Linked DNA regions of Homo sapiens. The protein of the gene in region 1 purifies or fractionates together with the protein of each later gene. This does not show direct contact. Each region holds a gene or a part of one and is shown on either strand. Other genes may lie near its edges.

What was found. The genes of interacting proteins can lie anywhere in the genome.
Region 2: the proteins of ROPN1L (region 1) and AKAP9 purify together in Homo sapiens (affinity purification with mass spectrometry; 2 studies listed by BioGRID and IntAct, with this or other methods). This does not show direct contact.

Annotation. Positions count from the first base shown.
Region 1 is NC_000005.10:10,444,879-10,448,378, reverse strand, and holds part of ROPN1L (ropporin-1-like protein), read right to left. Parts: intron 120-3,500; coding exon 1-119. UniProt on the Homo sapiens protein: Functions as part of axonemal radial spoke complexes that play an important part in the motility of sperm and cilia. Important for male fertility.
Region 2 is NC_000007.14:91,999,862-92,003,361, forward strand, and holds part of AKAP9 (A-kinase anchor protein 9), read left to right. Parts: intron 1-986; coding exon 987-3,374; intron 3,375-3,500. UniProt on the Homo sapiens protein: Scaffolding protein that assembles several protein kinases and phosphatases on the centrosome and Golgi apparatus. Required to maintain the integrity of the Golgi apparatus. Required for microtubule nucleation at the cis-side of the Golgi apparatus.

The DNA of each region.
Region 1 (3,500 bases):
TGTGCAAAACTTTCAGGAGTCCTTGAGTCAGGCCTGTGTCTGTTTTCTGGGTTGCCGTGGGCATTTCCATTCTGTCCTTTACAGGAAGTGGATCTCCTCTCGACAGAGCTGAAAAATAGCTAATAAATAACAGACATCTCTGAAAGCTCATCAATACACAAAAAACAGCTATGCGATCCAATTTCTTAAATAACCCCCCAAAACAACGGTGATTAGGAAGGACAGCTCTGAAGACCAACATCCCGGGCTTATGTCCTGGTTCCTCCACTTGGTTCTCTGACTTAACCTTCTCTGCCTGCCTTAGTTTCTCTGTTGGCAAAGGGGATAATGAGACTCCCTGTTGGAGGGTTGGGGAGCATTGTGTGAGAAGGGCTTGGCGCAGTGGCTGGCACTCGCAGAAGCTCCTTCAACATGTGTGATTCTTCCCCTCCTCCCTGCCACTTCACAATCAGCTGGAGTTCCATGTATTATTCTTTCTTTTTTTTTCCTAAATTTTTTGAGACAGGGTCTCACTCTGTCACCCAGGCTGGAGTGCAGTGGCATAATCATGGCTCACTGTAGCCTCAACCTCCCAAGCTCAAGGGATCCTCCCGCCTCAGCCTCCTGAGTAGCTGGGACTACAGGCACACACCACCACACCTGGCTAATCTTTTTAATTATTTCTTACAGAGATGTGGTCTTGTTCCATTGCCCATGCTGGTCTGGAACTCCTGGCCTCAAGTGATCCTCCCAGCTTGGCCTCCCAAAGTGCTGGGATTATAGGCGTGAGCCACTGTGCCTGGCCGTCTTCCCACTTTTGACAGGTGGGTTTGGTCTTGCTGCTTTTTGAGGTGCTTGACTTTAAGCGTCTCTGCATATTCAACCCTGAGGCAGCCCAGGAACACACAGGTCACCTACTTCCACACTGGGAATGGCAGGTGCTGGCCTGGCTCCCATCCCCCCACCCCCACTTTTCCTGCCTGGTATTGTTCCCCTTAATTGTTCCTTTCTGGGACACTGATATTGCTGCTTATGTTGGGGGCAAGAGTGGGAAACTGTTGGGGCAATAAGTCAAGAGGGAACCCACACCCAGCCTCTGGCTCGTGGTGGGAGGGGTGCCAGGCAAGACCTTCTGAGAAACTCACGCCCCTTGGTATCTTTGCCAGAGGTGGCGATGCTGAAGCCACATCATTTGGGGCCCTAATGACTTTAGCATGATGAAAAGAGACAGCATATCCAGGCAAATGAACATCAAAGCATCCACCAGGGCCACAGATAACAATTTTAAAGCCATGGGTAGTTAGAAACATTGCTACAGATAAATATGGATAAGTCGATATCTGATAGACTAAAATAAACTTCATATCTCATCCTTTCTCTCTCTTTACACCCCTCAAATTTGACTTTGTTTCCTTGCTTTGTAAGACAACTTCAGCTCCATTTTGTGGCTTTGTTAATGATTTGAAGGCAGCAGTGAGTTAGACAAATGTGAACCTAAAGACCTAAAGGGTGTGGGTGAAGAATAGGTGCCTCGTTTTGCCACATTCCTACTAATCAAGGTTTTCACCTATTTCATGGGGGTAACTCCTCATAACTCAGGCAAGGAATCCCGAGCTAGATACAGCCTCTGGAGGCAGAGTTCTCAGTGGGGGATAATGCTCCTCCTCTTTCCCCCACCCGCCACCCTCCTCCCCAGCCAAAAGGCATTTGGCAATTTCTGGAGACGCTTTTTTTTTTTTGAGATAGAGTCTCGTTCTGTGGCCTAGGCTGGAGTGCAGTAGCGCCATCTCAGCTCATTGCAACCTCCACCTCCCAGGTTCAAGCTATTCTCCGGCCTCAGCCTCCTGAGTAGCTGGGATTACACATGTGCATCACCAAGCCCAGCTGATTTTTTATATTTTATTAGAGACGGGGTTTCACCATGTTGCCCCCAGGGTGGTCTCAAACTCCTGAGCTCAGACAATCAACCCGCCTCAGCCTCCCAAAATGCTAGGATTACAGGCGTGAGCCACCGCACCCGGCCTGGAGACATTTTTGATTGTCACAACAGAGGGTGGATGGTACTCCAGGCATCCAGTGGGTGCAGGCCAGGAGGCTGCTAAGTCCCATCATGCACAAGATGCCCCTTCCTCCTGTGCCCTCCCCAACTGTCAGTAGGGCCGAGGCTGGAAATGCCTGCTTTTGAGGTGAGACCAACTAATGTTAGCCTCTGCCAGTTCCTTGAGGCACACGCCAACCAAAGCAGCCTCTATTACTTGACTGATTCTTATGTTCATTGTCCTGTGTGAGGCACAACTGCACAATGGTGTCATAAGGAACAGCCGACTCCCCTCACAGTGGAGTCCACAGGCTTAGGGGGAGGCTGGCTCATCTTTGATATTTGCCCACCTGAAAAGCACCTTTGAAAAGAACCCTAACCTGAGGAAAGAGGAATGCCTACTTGCTTCATCTTTTTTGTTTGTTTGTTTTTTCTTTTTTAGACAGGCTCTTGCTCTGTCACCCAGGCTGGAGTAGAGTGTTGTGAACATGGCTCACTGAAGCCTCCAACTCCTGGGCTCAAGTGATCCTTCTGCCTCAGCATCCTGAATAGCTGGGATTACAGACATGCATCACCATGGCCGGCTAATTTTATTTTTAGTACAGACAAGGTCTTGCCACGTTGTGCAGGCTGGTCTCGAGCTCCTGAGCTCAAGTAACCTGTCCGCCTCGTCCTCCCAAAATGTAGGGATTACAGGTGTGAGCCACCGTGCTCAGCCTACTTGCTTGTTCTATAGCAGTTATGTCCGTGGGTATCCTGGTTTCCTGTTTTGGTTTTGATGGTTTTTCTTTTTCCTGTCTCCACCCCCTTCTTCCTGTGCTGCTTCCTCTTCCTGGAATCCTCTCCACCCCACCCAAGCCCCAATCTCTCTGCCTACAAAATCTCTCAAGGACCAAGCCACTACTTTGCTTAACTTTCGTGACCCTTCATTTTTGCACTTACCAAGTCCCGCCTTACTCAAGTTACTTTTGAATAGCTCTCCCTAACAGATTCTGTCCTGTGACAGCTGAAACATATTTGAACCTACAATTACATATATACTGCCGAATGAATAATACCTGGGTTTTCTCCTAAACTCACAAATTGTTCTTGGTCAGGCGCGGTGGCTCAAGCCTATAATCCCACCACTTTGGGAGGCCAGGAGGGCAGATTACTTGAGGTCAGGAGTTCCAGACCAGCGTGGCCAACATGGTGAAACCCCCGTCTCTACTAAAAATACAAAAATTAGCTGGGCGTGGTGGCACGCACCTGTAATCCCAGCTACTTGGGAAGCTAAGGCAGAATTGCTTGAACCAGGAGGCAGAGGTTGCCGTGAGCCTAGATAGCACCAGTGCACTCCAGCCTGGGCCACAGAAAAAGACTCTATCTAAAAAATAAATAAATAAATGGCTCTTGAGAGAAATTAGTAGCATGGTACATTCGGAAAGTTCCTGATTAAGTCTCTTATTTATTTATTTATTTTTATGATGGAGTCTTGCTCTAT
Region 2 (3,500 bases), on another chromosome or scaffold:
ATTCATTCATTCATTCATTCAAGGCACCTTTAAGTCCTGTTTGCCTGGGACTCCTGTCTCTTTAAAATGATTTTACTTACCTACTTATGTCCTGATCCATTCTGTAGATTTCATGTATTTATTTGTTTTTGAGACTATAGCCCTCTATTACTTACAGAGGCAAGTAAGTTACTGAAGCAAAACTTTGACCTAGGGCCTCTGCTTGACTTTGTCATGCTGAAGTAATCACCATAACAGATATGCCTTGGCCTGTGTCTGGGCGTAGCCCTATCTCCATTCCAAAATAGAATCCCAAATAAGAACTGGGGGAGAGTATCTGCTTTGCTTTGAAAATTCTGTTTAAACCAAAAGTCCTAGGACCAAGTTGTTATGCCATAAATGGTATAGTTGTCTTAGATGTCACTTGAGGTTCAGCCTTTTAAGCATTGCATATCTCTAAATTTCTGACTGACTTAAGAGCCCAGGACTGAAGTTAAGACAGACCGTTAGGAGTCTGTTTTTGTTGTTTTTCTTTTTCCATAGCCCTTGCCCATGACACACATTGAAGTCACCAGAATACATGTGAGGAACTTTTATTTATTTTTATCTTTCTGAATGTGTCTAGAGTATATGCAGTACTTTAGCTATAGAGAATACTAAATATTTAGAATGTTGATCAGTTAATAAGAAAAATGAAAATGTAACAGTTTGGAGACATCTAAAATCAGACTGGGTTTTTAAACTAAAAATTTTAATCACAGAAATGTTAAGAGAAATTTCTTCTAAGAAGGCCAAAACTACTGTAGTGTTTGCTCACAAGTAGTGTTGGTTACACGAGTTCTAAGTGTCATTATTGTGGAAAAAATTGAGGGGCAGGACCAACATTTACTTTTTGTAGAATTTTTTAAAAGAGAAACTTCTGTCAGTCTTTTGGTAATGAGATGAAGCAGTATAATTTGCCAGAAGCTAAAAATGCCATTCTTACATTTTCATTTTTTTTCCTAAAGGAACAAGATAAAAAAGTAGAAAACTCAAATAAAGAAGAAATACAGGAAAAGGAGACAATCATTGAAGAATTAAACACAAAAATAATAGAAGAAGAAAAGAAAACTCTTGAGCTAAAGGATAAATTAACAACTGCTGATAAATTACTAGGAGAATTACAAGAACAGATTGTGCAAAAGAACCAAGAAATAAAAAACATGAAATTAGAGCTGACTAATTCTAAGCAAAAAGAAAGACAGTCTTCTGAAGAAATAAAACAGTTAATGGGGACAGTCGAAGAACTTCAGAAGAGAAATCATAAAGACAGCCAGTTCGAAACTGATATAGTACAACGAATGGAACAAGAAACACAAAGAAAGTTAGAACAACTCCGGGCAGAGCTGGATGAGATGTATGGGCAGCAGATAGTGCAAATGAAACAAGAATTAATAAGACAACACATGGCACAGATGGAGGAAATGAAAACACGGCATAAGGGAGAAATGGAGAATGCTTTAAGGTCATATTCAAATATTACAGTTAATGAAGATCAGATAAAGTTAATGAATGTGGCAATAAATGAACTGAATATAAAATTGCAAGATACTAACTCTCAAAAGGAAAAACTCAAGGAAGAACTAGGACTAATTTTAGAAGAAAAGTGTGCTCTACAGAGACAGCTTGAAGACCTTGTTGAAGAATTGAGCTTTTCAAGGGAACAGATTCAGAGAGCTAGACAGACAATAGCTGAACAAGAAAGTAAACTTAATGAAGCACATAAGTCCCTTAGTACAGTGGAAGATTTGAAAGCTGAGATTGTTTCTGCATCTGAATCCAGAAAGGAACTAGAATTAAAACATGAAGCAGAAGTTACAAATTACAAGATAAAACTTGAAATGTTAGAAAAAGAAAAGAATGCTGTGTTAGACAGAATGGCTGAATCACAAGAAGCTGAATTAGAGAGGCTGAGAACACAGCTTCTATTTAGTCACGAAGAAGAGCTTTCCAAACTGAAGGAAGATTTAGAAATTGAACATCGAATAAATATTGAAAAACTTAAAGATAATTTAGGCATTCACTATAAACAGCAGATAGATGGTTTACAGAATGAAATGAGTCAAAAGATAGAAACCATGCAGTTTGAAAAGGACAATTTGATAACTAAGCAGAATCAATTAATTTTGGAAATTTCAAAGCTAAAAGATTTACAGCAGTCTCTTGTAAATTCAAAGTCAGAAGAAATGACTCTTCAAATCAATGAACTTCAAAAAGAAATTGAAATACTCAGACAAGAAGAAAAAGAAAAGGGTACACTTGAACAAGAAGTTCAAGAATTACAACTTAAAACAGAATTGTTAGAAAAACAGATGAAGGAAAAAGAGAATGATCTTCAAGAAAAATTTGCACAACTTGAAGCAGAGAATAGCATTCTTAAAGATGAAAAGAAAACCCTTGAAGACATGTTGAAAATACATACTCCTGTTAGCCAAGAAGAAAGATTGATTTTCTTAGACTCCATTAAGTCCAAATCCAAAGACTCTGTGTGGGAAAAAGAAATAGAAATACTTATAGAGGAAAATGAGGACCTCAAACAACAATGTATTCAGCTAAATGAAGAGATTGAAAAGCAAAGGAACACTTTTTCATTTGCTGAAAAAAACTTTGAAGTTAACTATCAAGAGTTACAAGAGGAGTATGCTTGCCTTCTCAAAGTAAAAGATGATTTAGAAGACAGTAAAAATAAACAGGAATTAGAGTATAAAAGTAAACTTAAAGCACTTAATGAAGAGCTTCATTTGCAAAGAATAAATCCAACTACAGTGAAAATGAAAAGTTCTGTCTTTGATGAAGACAAAACTTTTGTAGCAGAAACATTGGAAATGGGTGAGGTTGTTGAAAAGGATACAACAGAACTCATGGAAAAACTTGAGGTAACCAAGCGAGAGAAATTAGAGCTGTCACAGAGACTGTCTGATCTTTCTGAACAATTGAAACAGAAACATGGTGAGATTAGTTTTCTAAATGAAGAAGTTAAATCTTTAAAGCAAGAGAAAGAACAAGTTTCATTGAGATGTAGAGAGCTAGAAATCATTATTAACCACAACAGGGCAGAAAATGTACAGTCATGTGATACTCAAGTAAGCTCTTTATTAGATGGAGTTGTGACCATGACAAGCAGGGGTGCTGAAGGATCAGTTTCTAAAGTAAATAAAAGTTTTGGTGAAGAATCAAAAATAATGGTGGAAGATAAAGTTTCTTTTGAAAATATGACTGTTGGAGAAGAAAGTAAGCAAGAACAGTTGATTTTGGATCACTTACCATCTGTAACAAAGGAATCATCACTTAGAGCAACTCAACCAAGTGAAAATGATAAACTTCAGAAAGAACTCAATGTACTTAAATCAGAACAGGTATGTTTACTTCTTCATATATGGTAAAGCACAATGAAAAAAATGTACATTTCACACTAAGGTTTCACCTTCATAGAACATAAGTTCATATCCTTACAAGAGAATGAAAATGAACCCTCTGATGTA